Linked DNA regions of Homo sapiens. The protein of the gene in region 2 purifies or fractionates together with the protein of the main gene of each other region. This does not show direct contact. Each region holds a gene or a part of one and is shown on either strand. Other genes may lie near its edges.

Region 1 (3,878 bases), on a different chromosome or scaffold from region 2:
TTAGTTTTTATTCCTTCCATCTTACTCTACATTTATTATTACTTATTTTACACTGTCTCTTACTTTTTTCCTCTTCTCTATTTTTGCTGGCTTGATTTTGTTTCCACTCATTCCATTTTCCCCCTTGTTAACTTGGAAGTTTTACTATGCTCTTTCACTTTACTGTCCCTTTCCCTGTTCTTATAATTAGACATACAGGATTTAACGTAAGAAATCTACTATTTCCTCCACCTAAGATATATACTTTCTAGCTGTGTATTAATTTTACCTAAGGATCCCATTATCATATTTGGCTGCACTGCAACAGTGGCTATGACAAAACTTTAGCAAGTACTGAAATGGTGAAGACTAAATGAAACTTACCTCCAGGAGCTAAGGAACCAGGGCCAGGTCCTGTGACAGCAGCTGGCATTTGCCCTGGTGCTGGAACTCCACCCTGCATAGAAGCTTGCATCAGAGGAGGTGCGCCATTGACATGCATTCCACCCTGACCAAGCAAAAAAAACAGAGTATGTATATGCCTCTGTGGATACTCAATATACTAAGTCTACGACCTTAAAAGTCCTCTTCAAATGAACAGCCCCAAATACACTACTAAACATCCTTTTTGTATGGCATGTCTTATGCAGCATTAGATTTGTCACACACTTTAAACTCCACAGAAGCAATATACGTCATGAGCCTGGTTATATGGAACACGGTTAAGATGGAACATATTCTCAATGTAGAGATTGACAAGTCTTATCTGTGTGGCAAGGCAGCACATAACACCTACTGTTAACTTCATGATTGGGGCTGCCAATAAGAGTAAAAAAAAAAAAAAAAAAAAGCCCTAAACCCAAGAAACATAAAAGGAGACTGGGACTCTTTTAAAAAAAACAACTGCTGGTAGTCCACATTTTTAAAATTAAATTTTTTTTTTAATTTAACCAATCTTTTCTCACTCCTGTCCTTAGATATAATTCTGGTTTTGGGGGAATGTGAAATATATTTTTTTAAATGCTACATTAAAACTCGTTGAGAAAAAGAGAATGTCATCTTTTCATCTGTGCATTCCCCAAAAAACTGAGTAGTCCCTTGAATTAGAAACAGCTCAATAAATAAAGAATAAAAGCCAAGTTATATAAAAAAAATCACATATACGTTTAAGGAACACAAAACTCTACAAAAGAAAAGGAAGAGCTGTATAGGAAAGTAGTTAAGAGAAAACTGGCTGTGAGGTCAGATAAAACCAGGTTCAGAAATAGATCTGCCACTTATAATTGTGTCAATTTTTGGACCAGCTAACCTCTCTGGGCCTTAGCTTTTTTTTTCTATCTCTGAAAATGTATTTATTTATTTAGAGCAGGGGTTGGCAAACTATGACCCATGGGCCAAATCGGGCTCACTGCCTGGTTTTATAAACAAACTTTTAACGGAACACAACCACACACACTTGTTCACTTATTGCCTATGGCTGATTTCATACTACCATGGCAGAGTAGCTGTGGCAGATCCTGTGACTTGCAAAGCCAAAAATATTTACTGTCTGATCATTTACAGAAAAATGTTTGCTGGTCCCTGCCCTGTACCTCTGCCAACCTGAGAGATGAAAAATGGTAGCTTATTGTAGTTTCTATTTACATTATCTTATAACATTACATATATAAATGATAATTTATTACATTATCTTATTTTGAAGTTGAATAAATTTTTATATATTTATATTTCTCCTTTTGTGAAATATTTATGTCTATTTCCCATTTTTCTACTGGGTTATTGGAAATTTTCTTACTAATTTATAGGAGGCCTTTTAAAATTTATTATGAAAAATTACAGATATACAAATCATATAGAAAATAAAATAGCCACCCAGCTTAGGAAATAAATAAGTAAATAAAATAAACCAATGGCCTGTACGGTCTTCCCCAATTGCATCCTGTGCTCTCTTCTCCTTTGATGACCACTAAGACGTCTTCTTAATGTTTCAAAATTTTATATGAATCATTACATACTCAATATATTATTTTGCAACTCATTCCACATATTTTGGGGATTTATGCAGAAACATATATCCTACATTTCGGGAATGCATCCATATTCACTTAGTTTCATGTCCGTATGTCACTGTTTTGGAGTTGTGTTGATATTATGTATCCTAGTTCATCTTAACTGCTGTATGGAATTATGTTTTTCAAAGTCATTCATGTTGATACGTGTAGTTTATTTAACTGTTGTACAGTATTTCACTGGATGAATGTACCACACATTTTCTCCATTCTTCCACTGACGTACATTTAGGACATTTCCAATTTTTCACTCTAAGGCAATAAACATTCTTGTGAATGACTATGGGCTCTTTATTAGTCTGTTTTCCATCACATGTGTGGTAAATACTTTTTCTCAATTTGTCATGTCTTTGATACTTATTTTTTTCTTTATATAGAAATTTTTTAGTTTTCAAATGTATCAATTTTTTATGGCTTTAAGGTTTTGTGTCATGCTTTGAAAGCAAGCTTTACTTTTTTCATCAGTAAGAATGGAGATAATAAGAGTGCCAACCTCATACAATTGCTTTGAGGATTAAATGAGATAATGCATATGGAATAACGAAGTGCCAACCACAGTGCCAGGCATGCACATACACACAAAGTTAGCTTATAAGAAAAGGGCATACGGGAAGGATCTCTTTGTTTTACAAACTTGGAATCGAATCTATATTCATTCAGATGTCATGTGCTCTGCAACCTGGAAATTGCTTTTATGCCTGGAAATTGAAATTATCATCTCTGGTTCCTGACCATTCTTCTTTCAATATATTCTCCTAAAAAGAAAATGACATTCTAAGACAGATACAAAAAAATGTTAAGGGATAAAGCCCTACCAAAGACTGGGCCTGAGGGGCCTGAGGATTCTGCTGGTTCATTGACACATTGGATCCTGAGCCAGGCCCAGCACCATGGACTGGCTGAGGGTTGCCTGCAATCAGCGTTGGGATATTTGTCTGGCGATGCAGAATTTTCTAAAAAGTGAAAAGACAAACCTATGAGCTGTCTGTTTAACAAAGCAATCAGGTAGTTCCTATCCCATTCAAGGTTTACCCGACCATTTCCATAAAAGAACCAGAAGCACTCACCAGGGCAATTTCCGGATCCACAATTCTCATCACTACCTGTGCTTGCAGCAAAGCATAAGCCAGTTGAGGGTTCTGAAGTAACATGTTCCGTGCCTCCTGGGGACTATTCTGGACACAGAGCTGAGAAGATAAGCAGATTCAGGTTTAATACTTATGACTTAGAAACTGATAGTGATTTAGAGCCATTCCCCTCTGAGAAATGTAATATTCAAGAGGCTCTTTATCATTAGTTTTTGCATGGCACAAAAAAACCTTGGTCATGGCAGGCAAGAGAAGAAAGAGGCATTTCAAATACTGTGATATTATCATTTAGGAAAAAAGCCAAATTTTAATATCTACATCTGACATCTATGGGCCACAAAACTCCAGCTGGATTGTTTGGATAGCTGTGTTTGTGTACAAAAATAGAAAGCTCTTTGTACAAAATGTAAAATATACTGTGTACATACAGAATATTGAAGGTGCAAGAAATGGTGGTCTACAGACAATTTCTATTTGAGCTCAGGGAACTAATTCAAGTAACTCCTTGAAAACCTGATGTGATTTGCTTTATTCATAACCTAATGCCTCCTCCCACCTTCATTTGTTTCATCAGCTCAAACATCTGCTCTGGTGGAAGGCTGGCAACTGCTTTGCTAATGGACTCAGGGGCATCCTCAGGACTGATGGTCTCTCCATAAGGTGACTCAATGACAGGGGCACCAGTGCCAAGGCCTAATCAAGAAGAAAGTACAAGAAAGTTAGGGAGGCAAAACAAAAAGCT
Region 2 (3,495 bases):
TTTTTTCCCTAGAAATTGAAATCTATTGAAGGCTTTTAACTTTCTTTCCTTGTGGAAAAATTGGAAATTCTCCCCCTTCTCCCAAATTATCCAGATTTCTATGATGGATATTTTAACAAAACTCTCTTAGGTTTTGTGTGTGCCCTCATAATGCCCTTGCTTTATAATTTTGATTCACTTTGTAAACCAAGAAAAAAGTATGTGTATCATTATGTAATCTACAAAATTATTAATGGCTTCATAGAATGCTGTCTTAAGGCTATGATTATTTTTATCCAACCAATTTCCTATCCATAGCAATTATTTCCATTTAAAAAAGAAAGTTGTGCTTTCCTGCTGTAATATTGGTTACAGCTAAATACCATATCTGCCATTCATTCATGTTTATTTACTTAGCATAAATTAATGGAAGAAGAATTATTGAGGAAAATAGTATGCTTTATCTTAAAGTTTGGTATACATCACCAAGTTGTCCTCCAGGAAGGCTGCATGTCTTCCATTCCTACTTCTTACATCTTATTTACCTTTTTTAATTTCATAGGAGAAAACAATATTTCGTTTTTTTTTTTTTTGGTATAGTTTCATTGAAATTGAAGTTTTTATATTTTTCTTTTCTTCTTTGTCCTTTTTTTGGTTTTTTTTGAGATGGAGTCTTGCTCTGTCGCCCAGGCTGGAGTGCAGTGGGACAATCTCGGCTCACTGCAACCTCTGCCTCCTAGGTTCAAGCAATTCTTCTGCCTCAGCCTCCCGAGTAGTGGGGATTACAGGCACCCGCCACCATGCCTGGCTAATTTTGTATTTTTAGTAGAGATGGGGTTTCACCATGTTGGCCAGGCTGGTCTTGAACTCCTGATGTCATGATCTCCCCACCTCGGCCTCCCAAAGTGCTAGGATTACAGGTGTGAGCCACCACGTCTGGCCTATATTTTTATTTTCATTTATTTGTGTAGATATTATTTTCTTTTGTGTACTGCTTTTAAAAAGTTTAGAGTGATGGCATGACATACTTTACCCTGTGTTTTCTGATGAGTAGAATCAGTGCACTGATTACTAGAGAGGGGTGAAGAGACCATAAGGAGGGAGAAATCTTTTTTAGACATATTTTCTACTTTTAATTAAAGGTGTGAGGTTATTTTATTTAGTAGTATTGAATAAGTTTTTTTTTTTTTTTTTCCTCCCACAAAGCTAAGAACTGTCCTTGGGTTTATGCTCTGTTATTGTCTGGGCAACATTTCATGATGTGCCTATGTGTGTTTTTAATTATTGTTTGCTTAAAATGTCCCAAGTTGGAGCTGGTTGGAAAGTCATGAGCTAGTTTGACCCATGCCTTATAAGATTTAAGTAGGCAAATAGAAATTTATTAATATCTGAAATGGTGAAATAACCTACAACATCTACTGACTAGATGTTTTTGTAATGTAGTCACATCTTTCTCTTGATCCCTCCTGTCTTCCAGTTTGTCTTCTTTATTAGCCACCAAACCCAGTTATGTTCTTTTATTCTTTTTTAAGTCTCTTTTCCCCCTTCCCCATCCTCTTTGTCTCACAGGAACAACTTGATACAGAGACAAGTACAACTCAATCAGAAACTATTCAGACAGCGGCTTCTCTGTTGGCCTCTCAGGTACTAAGTGCAAAAAGCAAGGAGAATTTTGTAAATGTCCTTAAGATTAGTGTGGTATATTGAATTAAAGTGAGAGTTCATAGAAGACTATTAAAATTAATCTTTCTGAAAGTAATTACTTGCTAGCCTATAAACGTATTTATTGTAGTTTTAAGGCAGGGCCCTGGATTTGACGGAACCGTTCTCTGGGACTGTTTCGATGTTAACCCATCCCCTTATATTAATATATTATTTGATACTGCAAATCATTTAAATTCTCACTAGTCATTTACACAGGGTTCATATGTAGGTTTTATTTGTAGGTCAAAAGTGAAATTAAAACTAGGAATGAACTAAAAAACATTCTTCGTGGATTTCTTTTGCAAAGGCTAATATATTTTTATTTTAAAAATGTATTTCTGCCTTATTTTTCCACTACTGATTTCAGTTAGTTATTTAATATAGCCCATAGCTCTTCAGAATTATGTTTTCATTTGTCCTAGCAATTCTACTTGTGACAGACCCTCACATACAGAATACAGTAGGCATCTGGAATCTTTTTTCATTGATTTGTGAACCTTCATTTTGTTGAATAATTTTTTTCTTGAATCCTTTCACATGAATGAACCCTAACATCTAGCTCAAATTCTGACACAAAGTAGATATATTCTTTAATAGATGATAAAACTGGTTAATGTCTACAAAGTAACTGAGATAACAACTGCTGCTGTACTGATATGATACTATGTACTATGATGATATTTTGCTGCTCCTGTGCAGCTCCGAGTTATTTTAACGTGATCATTTAAACATGTGCTTTTGCTAGATGTTAACTTTTATTGACTCTAAAGATATATAAATATTATGTTTAGTTTCTGAAATACCTTTTCCATAATCTAATAAAACTTTAGGGGGAGTAACTAACATCAGGAAGTATGCTTAATATTGATACGTGGACAAACTTGTTTATCAGTCTTAAACTGTCCTGTGATTGTGATTGCATGTTTTTTGGTTTGCCACATACTCTCGGGACTTATTTTCATAGTTTTGTCTTACTGAATTTATCCCTATAGTAATTAGTACCCATGGGTATTTGCCTTTTAGATATTTTTATGAGTGAGTAGAATTTTCTTTCTAATGAAAGGATTCATAGAGCCATAGAGAGAAAAATCACCCAGTTATGTAAGAAGAATGATTATGTTGATTTAAAAAAAAATTCATTCCTATCTTTGGTAATGTTAGGGGCGTACTTATTTCTGGGGAGGTGATAATATTGTGGCTATACCTAATAAAGAGTTCTTATTGTTTTGAGATAAATCTGGAAATATTTATAGATGAAATGATAAGATCTCTAGGATTTGCTTCAGAATAACACAAGGTGAATTGAAAGTGGGAGGACAGTGGCTTTGATTTGATAATTGATGAAGCTGGGTAATGAATACATGGGGATGCATTATACAGTGCTCTCTACTTTGTGTATGTTTGGAATTTTCCATAATAAAACTTTTAAAGATCCATCTCTGTATTTTTTTAGTGTTAAAGAACGCTTGTGATTTAATCTAATTAATATGAAAATAATCTACCTAAAATTTAGGATGATTAAATTATTGCTTAGCTGTATATATTTGTTTAATTTACAGTGTCAGAAAATAATAAATTTACTGCTGCTTCTGTATATAAAATGAGCTTTGAGTATTCTCCCACTTGGGGGTGCTCCAATACTAGTTAATATTACAGCTATTAGTGTTGTAATAAGTGAATACAGTTTAGCAGTAACTTAAGCATTATATGATAGGTGATTCTTAGAGGAACAATTTTAAAAACTATTTGAAATTACTTAGGAGTTTTTAAAATATTATTAAAATATACCTATTTGAAAATTCCTTTGTTGAA

Evidence for each region. Proteins that work in one complex are often made in the same cells at the same time.
Region 1: the proteins of PAPOLA (region 2) and CSTF2 fractionate together in Homo sapiens (co-fractionation; one large-scale study listed by BioGRID). This does not show direct contact.

The regions. Positions count from the first base shown.
Region 1 is NC_000023.11:100,823,243-100,827,120, reverse strand, and holds part of CSTF2 (cleavage stimulation factor subunit 2), read right to left. Parts: intron 3,830-3,878; coding exon 3,693-3,829; intron 3,236-3,692; coding exon 3,116-3,235; intron 3,002-3,115; coding exon 2,864-3,001; intron 488-2,863; coding exon 364-487; intron 1-363. UniProt on the Homo sapiens protein: One of the multiple factors required for polyadenylation and 3'-end cleavage of mammalian pre-mRNAs. This subunit is directly involved in the binding to pre-mRNAs.
Region 2 is NC_000014.9:96,561,271-96,564,765, forward strand, and holds part of PAPOLA (poly(A) polymerase alpha), read left to right. Parts: intron 1-1,548; coding exon 1,549-1,623; intron 1,624-3,495. UniProt on the Homo sapiens protein: Polymerase that creates the 3'-poly(A) tail of mRNA's. Also required for the endoribonucleolytic cleavage reaction at some polyadenylation sites.